Linked DNA regions of Homo sapiens. The protein of the gene in region 3 purifies or fractionates together with the protein of the main gene of each other region. This does not show direct contact. Each region holds a gene or a part of one and is shown on either strand. Other genes may lie near its edges.

Region 1 (4,465 bases), on a different chromosome or scaffold from region 3:
GAATTAAACATTAAGGATTCAGTAATTATTTAGGAGGTAAAAAAGAAAAAAAACAACAGAATGGTGATGTATATCTGCTATCATGTGATGCATCTTTTCATGCACATATTTTACTTATATAGCTATCTTTAACAAAATAAAGTCATGCTATACATATTGCTCTATTACTTGCTTATTTTCTACTATTAACAATATATCATAACTCTTATATCATTAAATAAAAAAAACACTCACCAATTTTCACATAAGGACACAAGACAGAGAATTCCTGTTACATGTAATTTTGACTTCTGGGTTCCAGCAATAAAAATCCACTACTTAATGGTAAGCAATAGATATTTTTCACAAAGAAATGTACCTCACATATGTAACACAGAACAACTCCAAGAAACCTCCACCCCAGAAACGAATTTTAAAAACAACCAGACAAATACAGACTGCCTACCTCTGTTTCCTTTTCTTCAATAATATTTACAAGTCCTAAGAAAATATTTTGTAGTTTGATCAAAAATGGTTCTGGATAAATTGCCCAATCTTCCCATGCTCTGAAGCAAGTCATTACCCGTTGCTAAAGAAACAGGAAACAGACAACAAACTTTTATTTTGGGCTATATGTCTCAAATTTCAGTTCATGAGAATGATCATCAAGATTTGCTAAATTTGCCTTTAAACTGATGTTTTTTTAAACTTTAAAGAAAATAACTATATATCATTACCATATTTTTTAAAAAAATCAATGTCACCTTCTAATTAAAAGGAAAAAAACCCCTAAAAATAAATATAATGAAAAATAAACAGTAACTATTTGCTCTTTACCACCTAAGGTCAGCTCCCATACCATTAGTACTACCCATGAGCCACATTCCAGAAACACTTACATAGAAACTTACTAAAACTGGAAACCAAAGTAGCCAAGTTTTGACCTGAATCCCTTATGGTCCAATAAAGTACTTCCTAATTCTGGCTAATACTTTACTCTGTATCTTCCTGAAACTTGTCTTTAAATTCTAACTTATGGTCAAAATTTAAGGTCAAAAACTTTTAAAATGGGAGTTGTCTGAATGCCCTAAATGGTGGCGTCACTGGGCATCTTCCGAAACTAAAAATTTTTCTTAAAAAAGTCTTCTTCCCATGAAAGCATATTTACTTATTCAATTATAAGTGAAGTACTACACTTGGCTTTTCTTAACACTGGTCTAGAGCTTAAGAGGTTATAAAAAAATTGGTAACAGAATAGACTTTCTAAACATGATTAAAATGTATGTCTTTAATCCAGCCAAATAGTATATACCATTACAAAACAAGTGATTCTTCTGTATGTTTTATGAAAAAAGACTAACATTTATAATTTTTAAACAATATTTAAAACTAAAATTAAACCTGACAAAATAGTATCTTTTAAATTTTTGATTTGATAAAAACAAAAACGACAGAATTTTAAAACAGTAACTTCTGTAACATCTAAGTTTTAAATTTATGTCTCATACTTGTCTTATGCACTTTTCTAGCCCTTCAATGCCCTCCCCCCACCCATTTAAAACACTAGGGCAAAAATAGTAAAACAATAAACGTACCTTAAAGTTTTCAGATTGTAAATGGCCTTGAATTGTACGATAGGTGGCATTGAGGTCTGAAAATATCTGACATAACTTTGTTTCAAAACTGAAATTCAAATAACACATTCTTTAAAATAAAATGTTTAAAATTCCTTTCCCTTTTAGCATGCCAGCCAATGAAAACCCCTCCTGAACTTAAAATACTTACAAATCAAGAAATTATTAAAAATCAAAAACTAGGTGTTTAAACTCTAAAACCGTAACTGAATTGCTTGAACTCTTATTACTCTGAATTTTTCTCCTACAAACTCCCCAACAGTCCCTACTAGTTCCCTTTACGAGCAAGAAACGTTATATCTAGGATATGCTGAACCATCTCGTCCAATTTCTTTATTTTATAAAACAGAAAACTTAGAAAAGTGACTCGTCCAAGGCAAAAAAACTAATAGCAGACCTAAGAGTAGGATCCAGCTCTCTAAATTTCTTTTCAGAGCAACATCCTAGGGAAAAGCTTCCCTTTGCCTAATTCATAAAATAAACACAGAAAGAGAGCTCTGGGGAACAGAGGAAAAGTTATACTTTTTTTTTTTTGAGATGGAGTTTTGCTCGTCACCCAAGCTAGAGGACAATGGTGCCATCTCGGCTCACTGCAACCTCCGCCTCCCGGGTTCAAGCGATTCTCCTGCCTCAGCTTCCCGAGTAGCTGGGATTACAGAGGCACACCACCACGCCCAGCTAATCTTTGTATTTTTACTAGAGATGGGGTTTCACCACGTTGGCCAGGGTGGTCTCGAACTTCTGACCTCAGGTAATCAGCCCTTCTTGGCCTCCCAAAGTGCTGAGATTACAGGCGTGAGCCACTGTGCCCAGCTGAATTATACATTAATTATAATACAGCAACGTAACTTCCTTTTGCCTTAGGAAACATTTACAATGAACTAAAATCAATATGCTGAGGATCAGAAGAGAACACAGATTCTATAGTTAATAGTATGTCTTTGGTCTCTTATGTTTGCCAGTATATACACTGTTTCTATTTATTATATGAATAGCTAGATATGCAATAAAGTTCTCTTTAACACCTATTTGTTATACTGTCAATAGCTAAGAAAGTGATATGATATAAAATCTTTCCAAAAAATTGGTAATTTAGCTTAAGTGTAAGCCAATTTTTTAAAAAATTCTACAAACCATTAAGAAATTCAAATTAGTCTTCCCTCAGTATCCATGGGGGGACTGGTTCCAAGACCTCCCATGGACACCAAAATCCACAGATGCTCAAGTTCCTGATTGAAAATGGCATAATATTCACCTGTAACCTATCCTCATCCTCCCATCTGTTAAATCATCTCTAGGTTACTTACAATACCTAATACAATGTAAATGCTATGTAGAGTTTTCATACTATATTGTTTAGAAAATGACAAGGAAAAAAGTCTGTACAGGTTCGGTACAGATACAATTTTTCTTCTCAAATATTTTCAATTCATGGTTGGTTGAATTCATGGATAAGGAACCCACAGACATGGAGGGCTGACTGTACTTCTTATTCTTGCAGGATGTTAACAAAACAATCCTCTTTTCTGAACTCCTTACCCTTAAATACTTTATTTCAGGAATATCAGTTATATCATTATACTTACAATTTTCTATAATATGAAGCATTAGCAACTTTGGCTGAAGAGTTGTACAAAACATCAGAAACCAAATATAATCTGGCAATCTATAATATCAAAAGATAACACAAAATAGGTTAATATAAGGCTAATGTTTAGCTATAATTTAATTATGGCTACTAATTAGAAGAGTTATATGAAGCTCAGTATCACCACAACTATGACTCTGGCAGAGATGAAATTTGTTAACCCATTTACATTTCAACTTGTTTGTTAACTTGTATGTTAATGAACCTAAATTTCCAAGCAGAAATAACATAAGACTGCATGGGAAAAATCTCATCAGTCAAGTGCTTTGTGCAAAAAGGAAACCAATTCTAATCCCAAAAGACGTCAACTATCTCCCCTTTTCTTAAAATTCATTCCCATACCTTTTTAGGAAGGGGTGTCTTTAAGATGGACAACGACTCAGTAATGCAATCCACTATTTCTTCAGCAGCTTCAGCATTATTAAGACAGAAAACCATTGCATCTCCAATATCATTTTTCCTTGGAGTTAATCCCCGCAAGATTTCTTCCAATTTATCCCTCTGTCTGAACATAAATTGTTTTAACTTATAAATATTTAGATACAATTTCAAATGCCATTGTAGCTTTTGCTCACAAACTAATTTCTTTAAAACCTACTCACATAAAATAATTCTGAAGACTGTAATACATTCAGTCTGATTTGTGTTGTGTCCCCCAAAATTGTTACAATTTTTTGAAGAATTTATATAAGAATACTCTGTAGAATAAGATTCCAATTATGTTTTCAGCTTACAAATTAAGTAAATTTAAAATCATACGCATTTCTTCAAGCGTCTTTAAGAGCACCCCAGTCTTACCATCCCATGATACTGAAGAACTTTCATGTTCTTTACTCCCCTTCTTTGAAGGAAGTCTATTACTTTAACACTTCTGCCTGGGATTACGACAGGCTAATTTTTTCTGTAAAGGAAAAGACTGGCTGGGTGCGGTGGCTCATGCCTGTAATCCCAGCACTCTGGGAGGCCAAGGTAGGCGGATCACAAGGTCAAGAGATCAAGACCATCCTGGCCAACATGGTGAAACCCTGTCTGTACTAAAAATATAAAAATTAGCCAAGTGCAGTGGCAGGCACCTATAATGCCAGCTACTCGGGAGGCTGAGGCAGAAGAATTGCTTGAACCTGGGAGGCAGAGGTTGCAGTGAGCCAAGATCGTGCCACTGCATGCCAGCCTGGGTGACACAGCAACACTCCATCTCAGGGGA
Region 2 (4,465 bases), on a different chromosome or scaffold from region 3:
GGCTGAGGCTGGAGAATCACTTGAACCCTGGAGGTGGAGGTTGCAGTGAGCCGAGATCACGGCACTGCACTCCAGCCTGGGCGACAGAGCGAGACTCCGTCTCAAAAAATATATATATATATAAACTCATAGGGAGAACCAGGAACCAGTTCCATGGTACACATCACTGAGACATCCCAGCACTCTCTTCCTTGCTAAAATCAGATCCTGTCTCTTATACCTTCTCCAAAGAGCAACTCCACGCAGCCAGCCACTACAGCTGATAGGAGTTAGCACATGAGATGAAACCTCTAGGATCTGGGCTTGCAGCATGTAGGTTTTACTTCAAACACCTAGGACTCTGCCCGAGGACAAACAACAGGGGCCAGTGAGTTAGTGCTCCCAAAGCAGCCCCCAACCAGTGACGGCTGGGAAGCTGGTGAGTAAGCACGCCAGCGTCCCACTTGGGATCCCGAAGAGGTTCGCTCCATAATGGGACTGTGAGTTCTCCCAGGACATGAAGCTCAGGGTGGTGACTTGCCCATGGACGCACGTTGTATTGAATTCTTGCCTTTCCCATCTCAGTTCCATACTTCCCTACCGGTGTTTCCTGGGAGGAATACCCAAATAAACTGCGTATCCTCACATCCATGTCTTAGGATCTGCTTCTATAAAATGCAGTGACAGACCCCCACTCCCACTTTTAGCTCCTTCCCCTCACTGGGTGTCAGAGCCTCCTGAATGTTGTTTCCCCAGAAAGTCACTTCCTGAGCACCCTTTCTGTGGTTACCCAGGCCACCCCATTCTTTTTCTCTGAGCATTTACACCATTTGCAATCATGTTTTTTTGTTTGTTTTTTTGTTTTTTGTTTTTTTGAGACGGAGTCTTGCTCTGTTGCCCAGGCTGGAGTGCAATGGCGCGATCTTGACTCACTGCAACCTCCGCCTCCTGGGTTCAAGTGATTCTCTGCCTCACCCTCCTGAGTAGCTGGGATTACAGGCGCCCACCACCACACCCAGCTAATTTTTTGTATTTTTAGTAGAGATGGTATTTCACCATCTTGGCCAGGCTGGTCTTCAACTCCTGACCTCATGATCCACCTGCCTTGGCCTCCCAAAGTGCTGGGATTACAGGCGTGAGCCACCGCGCCCAGGCTGCAATCATGTATTTATCTCTGCAATTCTTTGGTCAATTTCTGTATTCCAAGTTGAGCAATATGATAGCCAGAGTTGAGTTAATCCTGTGCACTGCAATAACCCAGCCCCAAGCATAGGACACAGATGAAATGAATAAATGTGGGTGTGTGCACGTGGCCATGAGTAAAGGTGAGACACTGGGAAGTCTCCTGGGGTGGGCAAGTGTGTGAGTCGGGTGAGCTTCCCCTCCCCTTACCCAGGGCTCTGTAGGCAGGCACAATGGTGACCGTGATGGGCTCCGCAGTCCCCCTGGTCTGGATGGTGAAGACGAGAGCATCGGGGACTCTCTGCTCCATCCTCAGGTCCTCGAGCCCGAGGTCCAGCAGGTCCTGGCTTTGCCACATGGTTTTCCATATCAGCCTCAGAACATCTTTGTGATGCTTGGCTGCCTCCTGGAAGCTGTGGAAACAGCTCAGAAACGCCACCAGCTCCACCTCTCTGGTGCTCCTGAGAACCGTGCCATTCCCGAAGGAGCCCACCTGCAGAACACAGAGCCCCGTCACCCTGAGGCCCACTGCCATGAGCCAGGCAACCCCTGCGGCACTTCACATGCACTGTCTCACTGAATGCTCACCACCCGCTGAGGGATGGGTTGTGGGTAGTACTAATACCCACACTTTACAGGTGAGAAAACTGAGATGTCTGGAGGATCTCGAGACATGGGATGGAGAAATGGGGCAGCCTGAAAAAGATCTTGACACTTCCCTGTTTCTTAGCTAGGTAAATGTTCTGACTCCTAAGACCTTCATCTCTAAAATGAAAGCAATGGCAGAATATGAGTCACTGGGCTACTGGGAGGATCAGATGAAATAATGTATGCCAAGGGTTTGGTGGGGTGCCTGGCACACAGGAAGTCAGCAACACATTTGTCTTTCTCCTCATTAGTCATTTGTCTCAGGTCTCGCAGTTTGCAGCCCTCAGAGCCCAGACTCTTTTTTTTTTTTTACACAGGGTTTCACTCCCGTTGCCCAGGCTGGGCTGCAGTGGCATGATCTTGGCTCAAGCAATCCTCCCACCTCAGTCTCCCAAGTAGCTAGGACTACAGGCCTGCGCCACCATGCCTGGCTAATTTTTGTATTTTTTGTAGTGACTGGGTTTTGGCATGTCGCCCAGGCTGGTCTCGAACTCCTGGACTCAAGCGATTTGCCCCCTTGGCCTCCCCAAATGCCCAGCTTCTTATCTACTACACTGCATTGCTTCTGAGACCCAGTCTTCTTACCCACAGAGTAAGGCCTACTCCAGAGGAATGGTAGCATCTACTCCATAGGGTTGTTTGAGGATTCTGGGGGTGGTGGTGGGGCTGAATAATTTCATGACATTATAAAGCAAGGAGCAAGTTTGCCTGGTGGATTTAAGAGCCATAGGCTGTGAAATGGAGCAGCCTGAAAAAGATCTTGACTCTTCCCTGTTTCTTAGCTGGGTAAACATTCTGACTCCTGAGACCCTCATCTGTAAAATGAAAGTAATGTTGGAACAAGAGTCACTGGGCTACTGGGAGGATCAGATGAAATAATGTATGCCAAGCGTTTGGTGGGGTGCCTGGCACACAGGAAGTCAGCAATACATTTCTCTTTCTTCTCATTATCCAGCTGACTTAGACAATCTCTTCTGCTGCCGGGGGGTCAGTTTTCCTGTTAGTAATGGAAGGAGGTCGAGAAGGGATTTTTCGATGTTTTGAGATTCTAGATGAGCTCTCCAGGCCCTGGTGCCTCTGGTATGCAAAGCGCCACAACTCTCTGGCCTCCTCTCCTTCTCATTCTGTGTTGGGAGGTGGAATTGCTAGGGAGGCATCAGACCCCCAGAAGGCTACTTTTCTTGGTGGTTGGAGTCACTGCACAAGAATCAGATTCCAGCTGTTGCCGGATGATATAACATGCCCTGTGTGACATGAGCACGGATGCTGGATGACATGAGCACGCCCTGTGTCTGGCACCCATAAGAGCCCTGTATACATATTATTCCTTTTAATCTTTACTTCCCAGCCAGGCATGATGGCTCATGCCTGTAATCTCAGCACTTTGGGAGGCCAAGGTGGGCGGATCATGAGGTCAGGAGTTCGAGATCAGCCTGGCCAACATGGTGAAAGCACATCTCTACTAAAAATACAAAAATTAGCCAGGTGTGGTTGTGTGCACCTGTAATCCGAGCTACTGGGGAAGCTAAGGCAGGAGAATCGCTTGAACCCAGGAGGCAGAGGTTGTGGTGAGCTGAGATCTCGCCACTACACTCCAGCCTGGGCGACACAGCGAGACTCCATCTAAACAAAACAAAACAACAAAAAAAAACGCCTTCACTTCCTGTATTGAGGTGGGTACTAGGAGAATTATCTCCAATGTACAGATGAGAAGACTGAGGCAGTGAGGAGCTTGCCATGGTCTCCCAGCCAGAAGGCAGCAGAGTCAGAGAAAGAGCCAGAACTCAAGTAGGGGATGGTTCTTCCGCCTCTTTCTTCCTCGTGACCCAAGGCTGTGAGCCAGGCCCTGCTTCCAAGGGACCATGGGCATTCAGACCCAGCACCTCCACCCCCTGGGAGAGGGTTGGAGATGGCACCCTGTGTGTGAATGAAGGACACATTCCCCCCGAAGGCCAGTCTAGACTTCCCTTTCTTTTTGAGACAGGGTCTTGCTCTGTTGCCCAGGCTGGAGTGCAATGGCACGATCTTCACTCACTGAAGCCTCGACCTCCTGGGCTTAAGCAATCCTCCCACCTCAGCCTCCGGAGTAGCTGGAACTACAGGCATGCACCGCCATGCCCAGCTAATTTTTTATATATATTTTTGTAGAGTCGGGGGTCTCACCATTTTGCCCAGGCTGGTCTCGAATTCCTGGGCTCAAGCAATCCTCCCACCTTGGCCTCCCAAAGTGCTGGGATTACAGGCGTGAGCCACTGTGCCTGGCGTAGACTTCCCTTTCTGCCTTTCCCACTGGTAAGATCCAGGCAGAGAGAAAAGAACACATCCAGAACAGGCTTCCTGATTTGCTTCAGTTTTAAACCTATTTAAGCACAATTCATTTGAAGACGAGCATTCCCTTATGTGGACCAGCTCCGCTCACTAGATTTTCAGAGGGTGGGGAACGGGAGGGTTTAGACTCTAAATAAGATATATTATTCCTCATTAGTCATGGCTCACTGGGGATTGCTACCATTTAGTGGTTTCAAGAGGAAAAGTGGCTATGATGTGCAGGAAGTATTTGAGGCTTAGGTAAATAGCATTTCCTGCCGTAAAAACTCATTCTTGGCCGGGCGTGGTGGTTCACACCTGTAATCCCAGCATTTGGGGAGGCCGAGGT
Region 3 (4,465 bases):
CCGGCTAATTTTTGTATTTTTTATAGAGACGGGGTTTCACCATATTGCCTAGGGTGGTCTCGAATTCCCAAGCTCAAGCAATCCGCCTGCCTCAGCCACCTAAATTGCTAGGATTACAGGTATGAGCCACCGCACCCAGCCTCCCATTGCGTTCTACTTGTTGATTATGATTAGGCTAGGAAACCATGTATTTCAAGACTACATAAAGGGATCCCAGCATCTCTCTCAGAAAGCCTGATCTCTGAATAGGGTGCAAATATGTAAAATAACTTGCCCAGGGTCATAGAGTTTATCTTGCCTTTCTGAATTATAAATTGTGAGAAAAGGGCCAGGTGTGGTGGCTCATACCTGTAATCCTGGTACTTTGGGAGCCTGAGGTGGGAGGATCACTTGAGACCAGGAATTTGAGACCAGCCTGGGCAACAAAGCGAGACCCTGTCTCTACGAAAAATTTTTTAAAAAATCAGCCAGGCGGCTGGGCGCAGTGGCTCACACTTGTAATCCCAGCACTTTGGGAGGCTGAGGCAGGCAGATCACTTGAGATCAGAGGTTTGAGACCAGCCTGGCCAACCTGGTGAAACCCTATCTCTACTAAAAATACAAAAATTAGCTGGGTGTGGTGGCGCGTGCCTGTAGTCCCAGCTACTTCAGAGGCTGAGGCAGGGGAATCGCCTGAACCCAGGAGGTGGAGGTTGCAGTGAGCTGAGATCGTGCCACTGCACTCCAGTTAGCCAGGCGTGGTGGTGTGTGCCTGTAGTCCTAGCTACTTGGGAGGTTGAAGTGGGAGGATCACTTGAGCTTGGGAGGTTGAGGCTGCAGTGAGCCGTGACTGCACCACTGCACTCCAGCCTGGGTAACAGAGCCAGGTCCTGTCTCACAAATAGACAGATAGAGAAATAGAAAGGAGGGAAACCAGGGATAAATAAATAAATAATAAGGGAAACCAGGGGATGAGTCCAGTAAATTTTGAGAAGAGATAAACAAGGACCTTCCTGACCTGTGGCTACTATAATAGGAGGTAGCAGTCTATAGAGTAAACTCTTATTTATTGAGCATCTACTAGGAATTGAAATTTTACCTCACAATACCCTTAAGAAGTAGGCATTATCTCTACTTTATGGGGGAAGTTCACAGAGGTTAAGTGACTTGGCCAAACTCACCCGATCAGTAAGACACACAGCCAGCTTTGAGCCCTAGTCTGCTTAACTTCTCTTCCCATGATGAGATGGTACTCCTGAGGGATTGGGGGTTGCTTCAGCATAATGCTCATATTATTTCTGAGCCAAAAAGCACATGTGATCACCTCTCAATCACAGCAGACATTTGGAAAGGTGTTCCTTCTGCTTATTTATGCAAAACATTCAAGTGCTGAACTTAGTTCTTTTCCTTGGCCCTCAAGAAAGCAAGCAGCCTGGCTTCTTTCCATTTTCTCTTGTCTTGCTCTAACAAACCACTAGGCGGTAATATGTAATACCAGCTCCATTACTGAGTCCCTACTATGTGCCAGGCTCTGAATTGGGTGCTTTTTATAAATCTGCCCTCAATTTTAGTTCTAAAAAATCCTGAAAGGTAGTTGATATTACCATCCTCATTTTTATAGAGGAAGAAATCAAGGCTTTGTGAAGTAATAGACTTGCCCGAGTCACACAACAGGGCCAGGATTTGAAGCCAAGACAGTCTGACTTGTTCACCACACCAACCTGCTGGCTGGCTTCATCATGAAGCAAGTGGGCTCAATATGGCAGCTGTATTACCTGATCTGAGTCTAGCTTCTTCGTTTCCCCCTTTAATGTCTCCATTCCATGGATTGCTAGGTATCTCTTCACTTTGTTGGCATGTTTTTTGCTCTGCAAAAACCCAGGAGAAAGATCAAAGATAGCCAAATGCTACTTCATACTTAAGGCACTCAAAAACACTTATGAGATTTTCATCTGATTCATCCTCACAAAAAGTTTTGAGGAGGAGGTGAGGGAAGTTTGAGTTCCTGCTCTGTGCAAGGCATTTTACAGCTACCAAATTTAATCTTCACAATCTATGAGAAAATTATGACCATTTCTATTTTATGGATGAGGAAACTACATCTAAAAATGATGAAGTTTCTTGCTCAAGATGAGTAGCAGAGTTTTGATTTAAAGTCAGATCTATTTAAAGCCAAAGCTCATACTTTATGCTATGCCAAGCTGCAAGGGAAGATACACATATAATGATCCTGATTTGGATGGGGGAGATGAGACTCAAGGAGATTAAGTCAATCTTCAAGTCACAAGCCAACATGCATGGAGGCAACATCTGGGTGGCTAAGCAGCAATTACACTTCACCATGCAAGCCAGAGAGAATTAGTGGTTTGGCACCAGGTCTGAAAAGAAACGCAGTTCTAAAAGTATGATGGCATACCTGGTAATGTGCCAGCTTCTGGGACTCAGAAATAAGCAAGGCGCAGCAAACCTTACACTGGGTGTTGGTGAAGAGACATTGGTTCTTCTGGATCATGTGCTCCACTATAGAGGGGAAAACAAGAAATCATTGAGTTGACAAACACTACCTCAACAGCACTGCCTTTGAACCCTGCCTCAAACACAGGCACTGAATGATGGGATGCCATACTAGGACACTGGCAGACCTCAGCCAGCCTTTCCTACTGCCACCGTGACTCATGCTGTGTTCTCACACCACCTACACTATTACTTATTTTATAATTTTATGTATGCCAACTTTCTTTACTTAGGAACTTCTTTTAAAAAGGAATCTTTAGATCATAAACTTAAGCAGATACCAATAAAAATAAATATGATAAAAATGAGGCTTGGAGCATTCCCCAGGAAGAAGAGAACAGCAACTGTGCTGAGAGGTTTTAAGATATGGTAGCACCCAACTGAAACTTCTTCCCAGATAGAATCAGGAGGACTGAAAGACTCGAAAAAGGAATACTTTTCTCATTGTTCTTGATCTGACTTTGAAACATTTAAAATCACATAACAGGGTGGGGCGTGGTGGCTCACGCCTGTAATCCTAGCACTTTGGGAGGCCGAGGTGGGCAGATCACCTGAGATCAGGAGTTCGAGACCAGCCTGGCCAACATGGTGAAACCCTGTCTCTACTAAAAATACAAAAATTAGCCAGGTGTGGTGGCAGGCACCTATAATCCCAGCTACTCGGGAGGCTGAGGCAGGAGAATTGTTTGAACCCAGGAGGCAGAGGTTGTAGTGAGCTGAGGTTGTGCCACTAACTCCAACTTGGGTGACAGAGCTAGACTCTGTCTCTAAATAAATAAATAAAATAAAATCACATAACGTATTATATAAGTGCCACACTATATGAAACATGGTATTAACCTGTGCTTAAATTATTGTGCCTGGAGAACAGTCTTACCTTTTTGAGAAGAGAAGAGGAGGTAAAATCTCTCCCAAGGCATAAGTTCATTTTTGTTTGTTTTTTTTTTTTTTGAGAGGGAGTCTCGCTCTGTCACCCAGGCTGGAGTGCAGTGGCATGATGTCGGCTCACTGCAAGCTCCGCCTCCCAAGTTCACACCATTCTCCTGCCTCAGCCTCCCGAGTAGTTGGGATTACAGGCACCCACCACCACGCCCAACTAATTTTTTTGTATTTTTAGTAGAGACGGGGTTTCATCGTGTTAGCCAGGATGGTCTCGATCTCCTGACCTCGTGATCCACCCACCTTGGCCTTCCAAAGTGCTGGGATTACAGGCGTGAGCCACCGCGCCCGGCCAAGGCATGAGTTCTATCATGGCGCTGGCAATGTGAGGCAGAGGCAGAGGCAGAGTCTAAAACTGGGAGAGGAGGGCAGGCCCACATTTTTAATCTCCTGGTCTCAGCCAAAAAGTGGTCAAGGCTAGGCACAGTGGCTCACACCTGTAATCCCAGCATTTTGGGAGGCTGAGGTGGGAGGATGGGTTGAGCCCAGGAGTTTGAGACCAGCCTGGGCAAGATGGTGAGACTCTGTCTCTACATAGAAACAAACACACCAACAAACCAAAAACTAGCCGGGGGTGGTGGCACATGCCTGTGGTTCCAGCTTCATGGGAGGCTAAGGCTGAGACAGAGACAGAAGGATTGCTTGAGCTCAGGAGGTCAAGGCTATGGCAAGCCATGTTAGTGCCACTGTACTCCAGCCTGGATAACAGAGCAAGCCCCTGTCTTAAAAAAAAAAAAGTCGATGCCCTGGAAGAGGTTCTTGGTGGGGAGCTTTTAAGATGTCTCTCCTTAATCCACAAAATCTAAAGCTTACCTATGTCAGCCCTTTTAGGCAGAAGGGCTGTATTTCTGCCCCTAATGATCTCTTTTTATTTCTGCATTTTTCTTTTAAATGGTAAATTTTTGTGAAAGACCTTGCCTGTCTTAGCTATGCTCTGAAAAACCAAGAGAAATGACTCTATAAACAAAATTGGCCCAGAACTTTTAAAAGAGGGTCAGAGGTGGCCAGGCACGATTGGTAATGCCTGTAATCT
Region 4 (2,542 bases), on a different chromosome or scaffold from region 3:
GCCACACTGACTTGACTATTGGCAAAGTTGGCAATAATTTCATTTCCAAGCCCTCTGCTCTCTTAAACATGTGCTTGGCTGGGCACAGTGGCTCACACCTGTAATTCCAACACTTTGTGAGGCCAAGGCAGGAGATCAACTGAGGTCAGGAATTCGTAATATGCCTGGCCAACCTGGTGAAACCCTGTCTCTACTAAAAATACAAAAATTAGCTGGGCGTGGTGGCACATGCCTGTAGTCCCAGCTACTCGGGAGGCTGAGGCAGGAGGGTTGCTTGAACCCGGGAGGCGGGGGCTGCAGTGAGCCAAGATTACACCACTTCACTCCAGCCTGGGTGAAAGAGTGAGACTCCATCTCAAAAATAAAATAAAAATAGTATCTGTACAGAGCCCGATGTGGAAGAAGCTCAGCTAGTGTTAATCGTTATGACTATTACTACTTACATTAATAAGCCAAACTTACAACTATACTTTATGAGACATACTCTAGGCACCACAGAGTTCTCTTTTGCTAAGCAAAGATTTAATAGTGAACAGTGTTAATTATACATTATATACAATATCAGGAAAAAAAAGAGTTGTAATTTTTGAGGAAAATCGCTTCAGCCTTTTGAGGCCTCCTTTGACATACCAGTGGTTGACAAGACAGAATTAAGAACAGTTAAAACAGTTAAAAAGCTGATAAAATTAAATCATCAAAGGTAGAAAGTTTTCCAACAGGAAAAAAGCCACTGAAGTTAACAGTCTTGTGGAAAAGAACAGAAGAAAGAATAGGGCCAGGTATGGCGACTCACGCCTGTAATCCTGGCACTTTGGAAAGCCCAGGTGGGAAGATCACGTGAGGCCACGAGTTCAAGACCAGCCTGGGCAACACAGTGAGGCCCCATCTCTAGAAAAGATAAATTAGCCAGGCATTTATTAGCTTGCCTGTAGTCCTGGCTACTTGGGAGGCTGAGGTGGGGAGAACTGCTTGAGCACACGAGTTCAAAGCTGCAGTGAGCCAAGATCACACCACTGCGCTGCAGCCTTAGTGACACAGCAAACTCCATCTCAAAAAAATAATAAGTAAAAGAATATAGTTATAAAGACGGTAGAGATTAATTTCTTAAGAAAATAATGCAGCTGATTAGGGGTACTGTTTAACCATCTGTAATGGCTTCTAAACAAATCTTTGTCAAGTGGTTCCTAAGCCAAAACTTCAACAGTTCTGCTTCCTTGGCTTTGGCTCTGCAGAAGTGAGTGACCATCTGTTCCACCATGAAAATGCAAAAGCAAAATCTACATGCTAGAAAGTAATGTCAACCAGAACCTCTGGGGAAACAGTTTAATGGTCTTTTCCAATTAAGAATAGAATTTCTTTTCTTTCATAGCTAAAATTAGAATTTTTGCTTAATCCAAAGAAAGATAAATTAATCAGGTTCCAAAGATAGGAGACCTTAACTATAATCCCAAATTTTTAAAGTTTCTCTTAGTTAAATGCAGTATTTAATGAACATGGCTGGTGAGTTTCGTTCTCATGACGTATCAAGATGGCAAGAGGGTCACAGCCTGAGAGAGAATAATTTCACAGGCTCTTTAAAGTAAGTATTAATTAAGAATTGGTTAGCAAACCTTGACAAGGGCTAACAAAATTTGGAAAAACAGCAATGATGAAAAAACAAATGTCAAAAGGTGTTAGCAGATTGTTTAGTTTTGTTTTCATGTCATTTTCCTGTTAATTATACCCAAAAGACATGATTAAAACATACACCTGTTTCCTAAGATTTATACAGGACCAGGTTTCCTTTAATTAAGTCCATGTGGATGCATAGTCAGAATCCATGTGCAATGAATGCTTCTGTCATAGTGCTAAGGAAAGGTCTCCACATTTCTCAACAATAGTATCTTTCCTTCCTCATTTTGTAGGTTAAGAAGCCAACAATCTCTCTCCCAGCACTTTCTGAGACTCATTTATCAAAGGTAGCTTGTAGGTAGTTTCAGAGTGTATGAAACACTGTAAATGAGGTCACTAAGCCACCAACAGAGTACTGAAGCTATTGATCCATGCTAGAGATTTCTGGGATTACCTCTGGGGTTTGTTGTTCCCCTTTCTGAACATGGAAGTAAAAATTATAAATGTGTTCTGCTCCTTTGGAATGCCTGGAAGGGAAAAATCAAACATTCTTTTATCTCAATGTAAGTAAGGCGTATGTCTTTGACAGTTGTGGATGTTCGTGGAAGAGTGCGATGACCTTCCTGTCTTTTCCCTTTACATCACACTGAAACAAACTGTCCTTATAGTTAACAGAACGTTAGAGTTGGAAGAAACTTTAAATGATCTAAACTTCTCAGCCTGTGCTTAAGTGCCTGGTGTGCAATACAGCCACCAGGTGATTATTCAGTAAGTCTCTTTAAAAGCAGTATCATAAAGCAAAGAAACCAACCAAAATCTCCCAACTTTTGATTCCAGAAGAGTACAGAATTCTGAGCACAGGTACCTAACATCCATACTATTAAGAATCATTACTTGCTAGAGAGCACAGGAGTAATTACTACAATTACTT
Region 5 (4,465 bases), on a different chromosome or scaffold from region 3:
CTAGTTGTTGGTCTCTAAGAAATTCCAGTCCGGGCGCGGTGGCTCACGCCTGTAATCCCAGCACTTTGGGAGGCCGAGGTGGGCGGATCACGAGGTCAGGAGATCGAGACCATCCTGGCTAACACGGTGAAACCCCATCTCTACTAAAAATACAAAAAAATTAGCCGGACGCGGTGGCGGGCACCTGTAGTCCCAGCTACTTGGGAGGCTGAGGCAGGAGAGCGGCATGAACCCAGGAGGCGGAGCTTGCAGTGAGCTGTGATCGTGCCACTGCACTCCAGCCTGGGCAACAGAGCAAGACTCCGTCTCAAAAAAAAAAAAAAAAATTAGCCAGGCATGGTGGCGGTTGCCTGTAGTCCCAGCTACTGAGGAGGCTGATGCAGGAGAATGGCATGAACCCGGGAGGCAGAGTTTGCAGTGAGCTGAGATTGCGCCACTGCACTCCAGCCTGGGCAACAGAGCAAGACTCTGTCTCAAAAAAACAAAACAAAAAAATTCCGGCCAGGCGTGGTGGCTCACTCCTGTAATCCAAGCACTTTGGGAGGCCGAGGCGGGCGGATCACAAGGTCAGGAGATCAAGACAATCCTGGCTAATATGGTGAAACCTGTCTCTACTAAAAATACAAAAAATTAGCCAGGCGTGGTGGTGGACGCCTGTAGTCCCAGTTACTCGGGAGGCTGAGGCAGGAGAATGGCATGAACCCGCGAGGCGGAGCTTGCAGTGATCCGAGATCGCTCCACTGCACTCCAGCCTGGGCGACAGCGAGACTCCACCTCAAAAAAAAAAAAAAAATTCCAAGTCAGTTGGGTTCCTGTGTGGAGACCCCAGCGTCTCATCACTGCTGTGATTCGGCCTGTGTGACCTGCACATGGTTAGCTCCTGAGTTTAGGTGTCAGCTAAAGGACCTTGGTATGGGTGGCCGTCCCCTCCAGCTCTGGAAGGTGATGAGCAGCCGTGGCCACTCAGCAACACTCCTTGAGTCCTGCCCAGAGAGCGCTGGGAGAGGGGAGGCCTCCAGAAGCTGTGACTTTTCTTTCCAGGTGATTGTGTCCAGGGGGGGGCGCTTTCTGGAAGCCCCCGTCTCAGGGAATCAGCAGCTGTCTAATGACGGGATGTTGGTGATCTTAGCGGCTGGAGACAGGGGCTTATATGAGGACTGCAGCAGCTGCTTCCAGGCGATGGGGAAGACCTCCTTCTTCCTAGGTAACACGCCTGCACCTGTCAGGCCTGGAGCCTGGGGCCACATCTCCTCTGTTTCACACTGATGACAGCGTCAGTCCCACACGGCCTTTCTGCCGGGGACCCTGGGGAAGGTTTCCTTTCACCTGCATAGTCAGTGCGTGGAAGGAGGAAGAGCCAGTCTGTCGGGGGCAGGTGAAGGGGGCCTCCCCTGGAGAGAGGTGGGTCTGAGCAGAGGTGAGGGTGGACAGAGAAGCCCTGTCTGTGGCATTCTTGGGCTGTGACCGTGAGTCTTTACCCTGGGCAGGTGAAGTGGGCAATGCAGCCAAGATGATGCTGATCGTGAACATGGTCCAAGGGAGCTTCATGGCCACTATTGCCGAGGGGCTGACCCTGGCCCAGGTGACAGGCCAGTCCCAGCAGACACTCTTGGACATCCTCAATCAGGGACAGTTGGCCAGCATCTTCCTGGACCAGAAGTGCCAAAGTGAGTTGTTTTTGGCCCCTCTTCTTGCATTTGGTGTTTGATTAGAGCAGGGTACTAGGTCAGGGATTTAGTGAGCGTGAAAGATGCCCCTCCCCAGTCAGTCCCTGACCCTGGCCAGAGGAGGTTCAGAAACACAGTGGGCGGGATTTGGGGATATAGGCTGGGAGCTGCAGCCCTCAGGTGTCTAAGGGTGAGTGAGGAGCCAAGAGGCCTAGGCTATGTGGAACTGAGCCCTGAGTATGTTTTAGGTACTGACACCTGGTGGACCGTAAGTAGTTTTTAGTTTCAGGTCCTTGGCTTTTGTCTGATACTGGCTTTTTCTCCTCAGATATCCTGCAAGGAAACTTTAAGCCTGATTTCTACCTGAAATACATTCAGAAGGATCTCCGCTTAGCCATTGCGCTGGGTGATGCGGTCAACCATCCGACTCCCATGGCAGCTGCAGCAAATGAGGTAGGGTAGATGTGGCCCAAGCCCCAAGGCCCTTCAGTTTCTTTTTCTTTCTTTTTTTTTTTTTTTTAACGGAGTCTCACTCTGTCACCCAGGCTAGAGTGCACTGGTGCGATCTCAGCTCAATGCAACCTCCGCCTCCTGGTTTCAAGCAATTCTCCTGCCTCAGCCTCCTGAGTAGTTGGGATTATAGGTGCCCACCACCATGCCTAGCTAATTTTTGTATTTTTAGCAGAGATGGGGTTTCTCCTTGTTGTTCAGGCTGGTCTCGAACTCCTGACCTCAGGTGATCCACCCGCCTCTGCCTCCCAGAGTGCTGGGATTACAGGCATGAGCTACCACGCCCAGCCATTCAGTTTCTTTTTCTTTTTCTTTTTCTTTTATTTTGAGACAGAGTCTTGCTCTGTCGCCTCAGGCTCTTGCCACCACGCCCGGCTAATTTTTTTTTTTTTTTTTTTTTTTTTTTTTTTTTTAGTAGAGACAGGGTTTCACCATGTTAGCCAGGATGGTCTCGATCTCCTGACCTCGTGATCTGCCCGCCTCGGCCTCCCAAAGTGCTGGGATTACAGGTGTGAGCCACTACACCTGGCCAAGTTTCTTTTTCTTTTATCGTTTCCTTCCCTCTACTTAGTTTAGCTTTTCTTTGTTCTTTTTCTTTTTTTTGAGACAGAGTCTCACTCTGTCGCCCAGGCTGGAGTGCAGTGGTGTGATCTCAGCTCACTGCAGCCTCTGCCTCCTGGGTTCAATAGATTTTTGTGCCTCTGCCTCCCAAGTAGCCTCCCAAGTAGCCTGGGATTACAGGCGTGCCCCAACCCGCCCTGCTAATTTTTGTATTTTTAGTAGAGATGGGGTTTTGCCATGTTGGCTAGGCTGTTCTCCAACTCCTGACCTCAGGAGAGCCACCTGCCTCAGCCTCTCAAAGTGCTGGGATTACAGGTGTGAGCCACTGTGTCTGGCCTCTTTGTTCTTTTTCAAACCCTTTAAAGTGGAATCTTAAATCATTTATTTTAATCCTGCTTTCTTTATAACATGAGTATATAAATCTTTAAATGTCCACTAATCCGTGTTAATTTGTTTTCTGATTTCTTCTTTGATCCATGAATTACTTAAAAGTTTATCTAGTGTTTGGGTTTTCCTAGATATCTAATGATTATTGATTTTTAACTTACTGCTCTATGATCAAAGAACATGCCCTGCCCTGTATTGGGTTTTTTTTGTTTTTTTGTTTTTTGTTTTTTTGTTTTTTTTGGAGACAGAGTTTTGCTCTTTCGCCCAGGCTGGAGTGCAGTGTCGCGATCTCGGCTCACCGCAACCTCTGCCTCCCAAGTTCAAGCGATTCTCATGCCTCAGCCTCTTGAGTAGCTGGGATTACAGGCACACACCACCATACACAACTGATTTTTGTATTTTTAGTAGAGATGAGGTTTCACCATGTTGGCCAGGCTGGGCTTGAACTGCTGACCTCAGGTGATCCGTCCACCTCAGCCTCCCAAAGTGCTGGGATGACAGGCATGAACCACCACAACCAGCTGCCTGTATGATTTTTTTTTTTTTTTTTTTTGAGACGGAGTTTCGCTCTGTCACCCAAGCTGGAGTACAGTGGCACGATCTCGGCTCACTGCAAGCTTCGTCTCCCGGGTTCACTCCATTCTCCTGCCTCACCCTCCTGAGTAGCTGGGACTGCAGGCGCCTGCCACCATGCCTGGCTAATTTTTTGTATTTTTAGTAAAGACGGGGTTCCACTGTGTTAGCCAGGATGGTCTCATTCTCCTGACCAAGATGTTGAAACCCCTATCTCTACTAAAAATACAAAAAATTAGCTGGGCATGGTGGCAGGCACCTTTAATCTCAGCTACTCAGGAGGCTGAGGCAGAGAATTGCTTGAACCTGGGAGGCGGGAGGTTGCAGTGAGCCTAGATCGCACCACTGCACTCCAGCCTGGGCAACAGAGTGAGACTCCATCGCAAAAAAAAAAAAAAAAAAACGAAAGCTGCTACAGCCTTCTCAGGCTTATTGTTTTCATGGTATGTATATTTTTCCATCCATTTCCTCTCTTATTTATGTCTAAATTATGGCTTTGATAGACAGTATGTAATTGGGGTTTGGATTTTTATCCATTTTGACAGTATCTGCCTTTTAATTAGCATGTCTATTAGCATTTTTCAAATGATGTTTTAAGCACTTAACACGTGCACTTTTTTTATATTTGAGACACAGTCTCACTCTCTTGCCCAGGTAAAGTGCAGTGGCACAATTATAGCTCACTGCAGCCTTGACTTCCTAGGCTCAAGCAATCCTCCCACCTCAGCCTCCCGAGTAGCTGGGACTATAGGCGTGCACAACTGTAT
Region 6 (4,465 bases), on a different chromosome or scaffold from region 3:
ACATTAGCTAATTTATTAAATAAAGATAACTGCTTTTTCTCTTCCTCCTCCTCTTCCTTTTTCCTCTGAATAGGATAAAAACTTTGAATCTGGTCCTAGGATTAAAAAGAGCACTGGAATTCCCAGAAGTTTCATGATGGAAGTGAAAGATCCTAATATGAAAGGTGCAATGCTTACCAACACTGGAAAATATGCAATACCAACTATAGATGCGTAAGTATGCAAATTAGGTATGACCTGTGGAGACTCCAGTCAGTCCCAGGGTATAGTGTTTTAATCTTGGGCTTGTAACTTTGCTACTTGGATTCCTTGAGAACTTTGTATACCAAAGCCATTAGTCTCTACATCTTGCATTTCTGTGAGGCTGCAGTCTGCTCCATTTAAAGCAAATTTAAAATGGATTTGGGGATTTTTTGTTACCAGTGAGTGCCACTTCCCTTGTAGTCTTCTAATTTTTTCTTTTTCTGTCATTCCCTGCTTTCTTCCTCATTCACATACATACTCCCACATAATCTTATTATATATGCTACTTGCATTTTTAAGTGAACAAAACAGATTGTAATCATTTTGAGAAACAGGAGGCTTAAGAATAAAAGCTCTGCATGATGTTGAGGCAAATTTAAGTGTCAGGCATAAATGAAATACTGAAGTAGCTTGAATAAGTTTGGATATGCCATGTGAGTCTTAAGATTCTCAAGTAAGGTTTATTTTATAAACCACTAGTTCAGATCAACTATAGCTCTATAAAACACCTTAATGCCTTTTTTTTTTTTTTTTTTTTTGAGACCAAGTCTCGCTCTGTCCCTTAGGCTGAAGTGCAGTGGCACAATCTCGGCTAACTGCAAGCTCCACCTCCCAGGTTCACACCATTTTCCTGCCTCAGCCTCCTGAGTAGCTGGGACTACAGGCGCCCGCCACCACGCCCGGCTAATTTTTTGTATTTTTTTAGTAGAGACGGAGTTTCACCGTGTTAGCCTGACCTTGTGCTCCACCCGCCTCGGCCTCTCAAAGTGCTGGGATTACAGGCATGAGCCACCACGTCTGGCCCTTAATGCCCATTTTTAATGTGTATTCAGATTTTATATTATGAACCAGTTTTTAATGAAATGGACAGACATGAAAATTCAGTGGCAGGGTTCAACTAGATAACCTCCCATTTTATCTGCTTTTATTAATGTAGTCAGTTACTTTTTTGATTACCTTCAACAGTTGTGATCTCACATACTATACAGCATAATATTAAGTGTTCTTTGGACTGCTGTTCTCTAACTTTGTTGAGCATAAGAATTTCCTACAAAAGTATGTTAAAAGGCTGGCCAGGTAGAGGGACCTTGGGCAAAAAAAAAAAAGATCCTGGTTGCTCCGCCCCCAATTTTGATTTAGAAGTTATGTGATAAGACCCTGATTCTACATTTTTAACAGGTTGTCCAAGAGATTGTGAAGTTAGGGGATCCTCAGGGCATCAATTTACAGAATTAGGTGTTCATGTTCTCAGTGAAAAAATACATACATATATAAGAACAGTTCCTCAGCTTCATGCTATAAATATTGTTGAAGTGTAGTGTAGTGAGCAGGTGGGGATGATGATGAAAATAGCTATGCCATAGAATGATATTGAAAAGATCTTGTGTTTTTGAATATGTACTTCAGCAAATAGTGTTTTCGTTCACAGATAAGAATGTTTTCCTAAACTCCCAACCCTGCTCACTTCCTCAACTTCACCCCCATCTATTTTTTATCAGTCACCATCCTGTGTTTTTGTGGTTCATCATTGAACAGTCTGTTGTTATGCTGTTTCTAATTCAGAGACATTTCATAGATGTTTCCAAATAACTTTAGCTTGAAATTGATTATTTTTACAGACACAATTAAGAGCAGACCGCTTCATCTATATTATGTAAAATTTTTAAGTAAAAATTTGTGTTGGAAAAATTAGTATCACCTGTAAACCCTAACTAATAATTAACTTCATTGCTTTTGAATGCTGAAATACAAATGCCCAATTGTGCCAGACACACAGCAAATACTGGGGAAAGATGGGAATCTAAATATTTTAAATGAAACTTTCACCCTCTTCACTAACACCACTGATAAGCAACTCAGACTCTTCTTCTGTTTCTTTTTCTATCCTCTGTTCTCCTCTTTTTTTCTTTTTTTTTTTTTTCTTTTTTCTCTCTTTTGGGCAGTGGGAGACTCCTCTTTCACAAATTGGGAACAATGGGGCATAAGCAAATTGATACTTATTTCTGGAATCGTGGTGATGTCTATGGAGCAACTGCAACACAAATAACACACCTAAGGTACCCTACTCTGTACAGCCGAGATTCTTTCATTTTCAGCATTGAGATAAACACACTCTGTTCCTGAATGAAATAGAAAGGGTTTCTCTAGGGATTCCTGTGTTTTGCAAATTTGCCTGATTACAGAGAAGATGGGGGTGTAGAAGCAGTGGTGACAAGTCTGAGAATAGCTATTTTTATTTTTTAATACTATATTTAATGCCCAACATTTCTGCAAAATGCATTTCTACAAAAAACTGGACCTAGAATGTCTAATGAGGTGTTACTTTACATTTTTGTAACACCGATTTTGATCATTTAAGTCACTAATGCTTCTTAATTGACTATAAATTGATTAACCTCTCTTAAAATACTAATAAGTAGATCATGGGTTTTGGTATCTCATTTTATTAATTATTTGTGTGGTAATGACATAATATTTCCCTTGAACTATCTTTCCTTAATTGTATAATGTCAGTACTAATTTTAATTTCCCGTCTTGTGGCATTTACTCCAATACCTTCACAGGTTTGAGAGACTTTTGGGTTATGGAGAAGGGGAGATTTTTTGGGATTTTTAATTTTAATTTTCATTTTTATTTTTTTCAAGAAACTTGATAGAGTAGGAAAAATTGTGATTATGGTGTTGTCTAAATTCAAGTCTTGTCTTTGTCACTTAAATAGAACTTTATGGCACAGAACATTTCGCTTTATTTCTGGCCCTCAGTTCTTAAGAGTGACGGGTTCTAAGATCCTTTTATTGTTTTTGTAGCATTTCTTTGCTTCTTTTTGTTATGCTTGTTTAGACTTTTGTGTCTTTGTTTAGGGTTAGGTTGTACATAATTACTCCCTTATTTTAGAAGATATGGTGCTTGTCTAAACTAATTTGGCATTGCGCTGAATTATGTGTTCCCATTATGTTATAGTAGAACATGTAGCATGAGTACTCTGCCTTCTTAACAATGGTAAAACATGAAAACTTTCTTTTACAGAGAAGCATATGCAATTGGGAAGAAAGAGAAACCTCCCTTCTTACCAGAGGAGCCATCTTCTTCCTCAGAAGAAGATGATCCTATCCCAGATGAATTGTTGTGTCTCATCTGCAAGGATATTATGACTGATGCTGTTGTGATTCCCTGCTGTGGAAACAGTTACTGTGATGAATGTAAGAAGTGCTGAATCTTGGAAGATGTATATTTTAGAATATTTGTATTTACTTGGAATGGCTCTTCCCAACCTCATATGTTTTAATAATAAAATAAATAATGTTGATGACAAGTGTTGATCAATGAGCATTAAGTAGTGAGAAGTCTGTTTTTCTTGCTGTATCTTTTTTAAACAATAACCTGTTTGTCCTTTTAAATTCTAGAATTGACTTCTGTACCTTCATCAGGGTGACTATACTGAGGTGTTTTTCTTAATATAGACTTTTTGTTTCCTGTATGTTTTAAGTGGTATCCAGAATTTTAAAACTTTTTTGGGCCTTAGATAATTCTGGAAATATTTTTAAGTGGTATCTAAATCTTTTTCCTGGATTGTGAATAGCTTATCCTAATATTTCTAAGTGTATTAACACCTGATTCCTGTAGACAGTTTTTGTTTTTTTTTTTTTTTTTTGAGACAGAGTCTCACTGTCTCCCAGGCTGGAGTGCAGTGGTGTAATCTCGGCTCACTGCATCCTCTGCCTTCTGGCTTCACACAATTCTGCCTCAGCCTCCCAAGTAGCTGGGACTGCAGGTGCCCGCCACCACACCCGGCTAATGTTTTGTATTTTTAGTAGAGACGGGGTTTCACTGTGTTAGCCAGGATGGTCTCGATCTCCTGACCTCGTGATCCGCCCACCTCGGCCTCCCCAAGTGCTGGGATTACAGGCGTGAGCCACCGCGCCCGACATCTGTAGACATATTTATTACCCAGCATTTACCATGCAGTTGTGACTTTTTAAATCACTTATATTAGCACTTAGTTGTTTCCTGCCACTTATCCTAAGTTTGTGCCTTCTTACACAGAAGAAATCAGTGTTACCTGAAAATTTGCTCAAGCCTGCTCTGGCCTTTTTCATTTTTAAAGGTAGTTTTGAAATATACAGTCCTCATACACATGGTTCTGCATCTGCAGATTCAAAACCACAGATCATAAATATTTGGGGGCAAGAAAACAGTAAAAAATAATAGTAAAGACTAATAC
Region 7 (4,997 bases), on a different chromosome or scaffold from region 3:
CTACTCAAGTGAACATTTCTGGCTGGGCTCTGTGGCTCACAACTGTATTCTCAGCACTTTGGAAACCCAAGGCAGGAGGATCCTTTGAGGCCAGGAGTTTGAGACCAACCTGGGCAACATAGCAAACCCTGTCTCTACAAAAAATTAAAATATAAAAACTTATTTGAGCCTGGTTGCACGTACCTGTAGTCCCAGCTACTCAGGAGGCTGAGACAGAAGGATCACGTGAGCACAGGAGGTCAAGGCTGCAGTGAGCGATGGTCGCATCACTGCAATCCAGCCTGGGCCACAGAGCAAGATACTGCCTTCAAAATTAAAAAAAAAGAAAAACAGGCCAGGCGCAGTGGCTCACACCTCTAATCCCAGCACTCTGGGAGGCTGAGGCAGGCAGATCACGTGAGGTCAGGAGTTCGAGACCAGCCTGGCCAACATGGTGAAAATTAGCCAGGTGTGGTGTCGGGCGCCTGTAATCCCAGATACTTGGGAGGCTGAGGCAGGAGAATCACTTGAACCCAGGAGGCAGAGGTTGCGGTGAGTCGAGACCACACCATTGCACTCCAGCCTGGGTGACAGCGTAAGACTCCGTCTCAAAAAAAAGAAAAAAAAAAAAAGAAACAAATAGCACTTCCAGCCAGGTGCGGTGGCCTGCTGCAACACAGCAAGACCCGCTTTCTAACAGCAGCAACAGCAAAGCACTTCCCGGATAAGGCCCTAGGCTACTACTGGTGTCTCCCACTTCCCAGGGCGCTGTGCACGCACACATTTTAAGGACAAGTCTCGTTTACCACATAAAGTTTTTATTGAACTCAAACTCAGGGGCTCCAAAGCCTGAGGAAGAAGAGGGAGGCTGGGGTTTGCACGCAGAGGCCCAGGCCCCACCCCGGGGCCCCACTCCCCACCCCACCTACCTTTTACCCGCTCCTGACTCAACGAGAGTTTCAGCAGCTACCAATCTAAGCTAACCCACTCTAATTAGGTAATCCCCTGCCCTCCCCCCTCCCTGCTCTAGCAGTTGCCAAGCCAGGCACCCACCAAGGAGCCGCGGCTGAGGCCAGCCCTCCGCTGACCTCTCTCCATTTCTCCCAGGGCCTCCCGCTGCCGGCCTGGCCTCCCTCCAACCCACTTCCCACAAGTCTCCAGGGCATGTCACTTCCTCCACCCTGGTTCTCTTCTTCCAGCATCCTCAGCTCCTCCATTCTCCTGCGGCTTCTCCACTATCCTCCCTAAAGGTTCCTCTAGCTCCCTGGCCCCTTATCTTCTGCCCACACCTCCCACCCCTGCTGGGGCCCCAGGTCAGCGCCGGCCCGCCGCGTGGGTCCGCTGGTGGCGGATGAGGTCGGAGCTCTGGGAGAAGGCCTTTCCGCAGTCATCGCACTTGTAAGGCCGCTCGCCACTGTGGACCCGGTGATGCTGCAGAAGCGTGGAGGAGCGGCAGAAGCCCTTGCCGCACACGGCGCACCTGTAGGGCCGCTCGCCCGTGTGGGAGCGCTGGTGCTGGATGAGAGTGGAGGAGCGATTGAAGGTCTTGCCGCAGTCGGGGCAGCTGTAGGTGCGGCCTGGCAGGTGGGTGCGGGCGTGGATGGCCAGCACCGAGCTCTGGCCAAAGCGCTTGCCGCACTCAGGGCACTTGAAGGGCTTCTCCCGGGCGTGGCTGCGGGCATGGGGGATAAGGGCCGACCGCTGGGAGAAGCTCTTGCCGCAGATGCCACAGCTGAAGGGCCTCTGACCGGTGTGCACCCTCTGATGGCTGCGCAGGGACGAGTTCTGGCTATAGCACTTGCCGCACTCGGTGCAGCTGTAGGGCCGCTCGTGGCTGTGGGTGCGCTGGTGTCGCAGGAGGTAGGAGCTGTCGCCGAAGGCCTTGCCACAATGTGGGCACTTGTAGGGCTTCTGGCCAGAGTGAGTGCGCTGGTGGCGAAGCAGGTAAGAGCTGTCGGCGAAGGCCTTGCCGCAACGGGGACATTTGTAGGGCCGCTCGCCAGTGTGGGTGCGCTGGTGTTTGATGAGGTCAGAGCTCTGGGAGAAGGCCTTGCTGCAGACCTCACATTTGTAGGGCTTCTCACCGGTGTGGATGCGCTGGTGCTGGATCAGGGTGGAGCCCCGCCCGAAGCTCTTCCCGCAGATGCCACAGATGTTAGGCCGAGGGCCCTGCCCACCCCTGGCCCGGCCACCCCGCCGACCTGGACCTCGAAGGGCTCCTGTGAGACCCAGGGGATTCTGAAGCATCTCAAACTGCGGTGTAGACAGCAGGGCCCCTGTGGGCATCTCAAAAGGTGGCCCTATGGGCAGGTCCCCTGTGGGCTGCTCCCCAAACCCCTGAGTGAAGGAGTCCAGGGGGTGAACTCCTACGGAGATATTCAAAGGACTCTTTTCCTCGGGGTTCAGAAGCATCTCCGCACCTTCCTGGAATTTGGAACTTTGAGCTTCAAATTCTGGGCTTTGGGTTTTGAGCTCAGTGTTCTGGGATTCATATCTAGAGCTCTCAGATTCATAGCCAGGGCTCCGGGGTTCATACCCGGGGCTCCGAGGTTCATAGCCAGGGCTTTGGGGTTCATACCTAGGGCTCTGGGATTCAAACTCAGGGCTCTGAGAATCTGATTCAGGGCTTCTGGGTGCAAACTCAGGGCTTGGGGGCACAAGCCCAGGGCTTCGGGACTCAAACCCCGGGCTTTCAGGCTCAAATCTGGGGCTTTGGGGTTCAAACTCTGGGCTTTGTGGCTCAAACCCAGGGCTCTGGGGTTCAAGCCCAAATGGTATCTCTTCGACTTCATAGTCCCCACTGCCTTCTTGCTGAGAAATTTCCTCTTCCTCATTCTCACTCATGTTGCCTGCAGGATGAGAGAATCCAGATCGTGTGAGACCTGGAAGGTCATTTGGTCCATTAGCAACCACACACCTCCCACCTCACATGCAGGGTCGCTGGCCCCTAGACAAGTGCTGAAATTCCCACGCCCCCCTCAGCTGACCCAAGACACCCCAGTCCCCGCCGGCCCCTCCTTCGAGTCCCAGGTGTCCCAGCCCCGGGCCCTCGCTCCCTCCCTGGAGCCACAGCCCCTTCTCCTGCGCGCAAGTCCACTCCTCGGACGGGCGCTCCCTCCTCACCTCTGAGGTACCCTTCGGGGCTCCTCATTTCGTCAGAACTCTGCACATCCTGGGGCTCGAGGCCCCACGGCAACGCCTCCCGCTCCATCCCCGCGGGCTCCCAGTGCAGCGGCGGCGGCGATGGCGGCCGATCCCGCGACCCGGCCTCGGTTGCCCCGAGCCGCGGGCCCCCGCCTCCCGCCCGCTCAGCGCCGCCCAGGGGACTCGGCGGCCCAGCCCGGGCCCCCGAGGCCGGACGTCTTGACCCCGCGCCTCTCCAGCGCGCCGGGCCCCTCCCCTGCCCGCGGCCCCGCCCCCTCCCAAGGTCTCGGCCTCCCCGTGGCCCTCACTGGCCCCCGCGCGTCGCGGCCTCGGGGATGAGGGGCTTCGCGACTACCCCGGCGGCCCCCGGCCCCCGCTCCCGCCCGAGCCCCCACCTTCTGGACCCCGGCCCCGGGCTGGGCTGCACTGTCCAACGGCCGCCCAGCACCCCCCCACCCTCCCCCGCACAGGAAGTGTCCGTCCGCGGCCAGGTCCCCCCGCCGGCTCGCGCCGCGGCCTCTCTAGGAGCCGCTGGAGGTGGAAACTCGTTGGCATTAACCCTGGGCTGGAGGGGCCCGGCCACGGGGTGGGTGAGGACCGGACGCCCCGGAGCCCGCGGGGCTACCGGGGCAGTGTGTGTGCCTATGTTCTAGGTCTCCGTCCCTCCAGAGGCCCGTCTGTCCATCTCCCGGGCCCCGCGTCGTCGGTGCGTGTGGCCAAGGGCGAGGCGACAAGCGAGACCAAGGTCAGCGAGAAGGAGCGACGCTTCCCGGCGCCAGCGGGGGCGGTGTCTCGCTCCCTCCCCTCCCGGGCCTCCGGGTCAGCTCCGGCAGCGCCTCGGGAACCGGGACGGACTCCCCTTGGCCTCGCCGAGGTCCTTGAGCCTGGGACCCCCTCCAGGAACTCCGCTCCCCGGCACCTGCGCGCGCCCGCTCCCGTTCCTCCGGCCCCCACCCAGCTCGGCTCCCCTGATCCTCCTCCTCCCTCCTCCCTCCTCGAGGGCTAGGATAGTTGCCAAGGAGACAGCCCCGCCCCGGCTCCCAGAGGCACAGCTTCTCCGCCCCAGGAAGCCCGGCGGTTGGCCGATGGGGCTCGTGCTCTAGCCGCCCCGCCTCCTCCAACCCCGCGGACGGCTGGGCGTTAATGGTCGCCAGGGAACGCCAGGCGCCTTCCTGATTGGCCGGGAGTGCTGTGGTCGGGTCCGCCTCCCCTGTCGGCCAGAAGCGCCTTCAGGAGGTAGTGGGAGGGAGGTGCCAGGCATCTCCCCTCCAGCCCGGCCTGTGCCATCAAAACTTTTCCCGCCCCCACTTAGCCTCCATTATGTTTTATGAAAGCCAGAAGATCTGAGGACAGACACCCTTCCTCCTCGTCAGCCTCACACCCCTTGCCTCTCCCCTCCACCTTCCCCAGCGCCTGAGTTTAACTCAATCCCTGGCAGCCTTAGTCCCTGTTGTTAGATTTCCTCACAGGGAGGCAGGATTCCTTCCAGGTGAGGGTGATACAAAGGAGAATTGGACTGAGAGAACCATCTGGCCTTCGAGGCATCTAACAACTCTCCAGTCTTGTCTGACTCGAATGGAGTCTTGCAGAGGAAGGGAACCTGAGAAACACTGCCTCGGGCGCAGCTTTGAATTGAGGAAGTGAGCCTGGACAGACAACTTAATATCATCCAGTTCTTGTCTTTTTTTTCTACGCTTCGTGCTGAAACAAGTTTGGCAGCGTTCTTGACAGTTAACGAGCCCGATGCCCCTGTGTGAGCAGGAGCCATGGATCGTGTTTTCTTGTCGCCTACCCAGACAAATGAAGGGAAGAGAATGTTTGGGAGGAAGGATGGCCTCTCCTTCCTGAAAAGAGGTGAGAACAAGAACTTGAAG

Evidence for each region.
Region 1: the proteins of ZNF346 (region 3) and U2SURP purify together in Homo sapiens (co-immunoprecipitation; 2 studies listed by BioGRID and IntAct, with this or other methods). This does not show direct contact.
Region 2: the proteins of ZNF346 (region 3) and OASL purify together in Homo sapiens (co-immunoprecipitation; 2 studies listed by BioGRID and IntAct, with this or other methods). This does not show direct contact.
Region 4: the proteins of ZNF346 (region 3) and HP1BP3 purify together in Homo sapiens (affinity purification with mass spectrometry; 2 studies listed by BioGRID and IntAct, with this or other methods). This does not show direct contact.
Region 5: the proteins of ZNF346 (region 3) and GLYR1 purify together in Homo sapiens (co-immunoprecipitation; 2 studies listed by BioGRID and IntAct, with this or other methods). This does not show direct contact.
Region 6: the proteins of ZNF346 (region 3) and RBBP6 purify together in Homo sapiens (co-immunoprecipitation; 2 studies listed by BioGRID and IntAct, with this or other methods). This does not show direct contact.
Region 7: the proteins of ZNF346 (region 3) and ZNF768 purify together in Homo sapiens (co-immunoprecipitation; 2 studies listed by BioGRID and IntAct, with this or other methods). This does not show direct contact.

The regions. Positions count from the first base shown.
Region 1 is NC_000003.12:143,032,085-143,036,549, reverse strand, and holds part of U2SURP (U2 snRNP-associated SURP motif-containing protein), read right to left. Parts: intron 3,767-4,465; coding exon 3,604-3,766; intron 3,280-3,603; coding exon 3,200-3,279; intron 1,663-3,199; coding exon 1,575-1,662; intron 569-1,574; coding exon 446-568; intron 1-445.
Region 2 is NC_000012.12:121,032,090-121,036,554, forward strand, and holds part of OASL (2'-5'-oligoadenylate synthase-like protein), read right to left. Parts: intron 1,655-4,465; coding exon 1,372-1,654; intron 1-1,371.
Region 3 is NC_000005.10:177,039,160-177,043,624, reverse strand, and holds part of ZNF346 (zinc finger protein 346), read right to left. Parts: intron 2,500-4,465; coding exon 2,396-2,499; intron 1,848-2,395; coding exon 1,755-1,847; intron 1-1,754.
Region 4 is NC_000001.11:20,739,766-20,742,307, forward strand, and holds the end of HP1BP3 (heterochromatin protein 1-binding protein 3), read right to left. Parts: 3' UTR 501-2,542; downstream 1-500. UniProt on the Homo sapiens protein: Component of heterochromatin that maintains heterochromatin integrity during G1/S progression and regulates the duration of G1 phase to critically influence cell proliferative capacity.
Region 5 is NC_000016.10:4,808,825-4,813,289, reverse strand, and holds part of GLYR1 (cytokine-like nuclear factor N-PAC), read left to right. Parts: intron 1-1,041; coding exon 1,042-1,204; intron 1,205-1,487; coding exon 1,488-1,667; intron 1,668-1,995; coding exon 1,996-2,120; intron 2,121-4,465. UniProt on the Homo sapiens protein: Cytokine-like nuclear factor with chromatin gene reader activity involved in chromatin modification and regulation of gene expression. Acts as a nucleosome-destabilizing factor that is recruited to genes during transcriptional activation.
Region 6 is NC_000016.10:24,556,235-24,560,699, forward strand, and holds part of RBBP6 (E3 ubiquitin-protein ligase RBBP6), read left to right. Parts: intron 1-73; coding exon 74-213; intron 214-3,270; coding exon 3,271-3,443; intron 3,444-4,465. UniProt on the Homo sapiens protein: E3 ubiquitin-protein ligase which promotes ubiquitination of YBX1, leading to its degradation by the proteasome.
Region 7 is NC_000016.10:30,523,224-30,528,220, forward strand, and holds ZNF768 (zinc finger protein 768), read right to left. Parts: upstream 3,344-4,997; 5' UTR 3,191-3,343; coding exon 3,103-3,190; intron 2,829-3,102; coding exon 1,294-2,828; 3' UTR 781-1,293; downstream 1-780. UniProt on the Homo sapiens protein: Binds to mammalian-wide interspersed repeat (MIRs) sequences in euchromatin and promoter regions of genes at the consensus sequence 5'-GCTGTGTG-[N20]-CCTCTCTG-3', consisting of two anchor regions connected by a linker region; the linker region probably does not contribute to the binding specificity.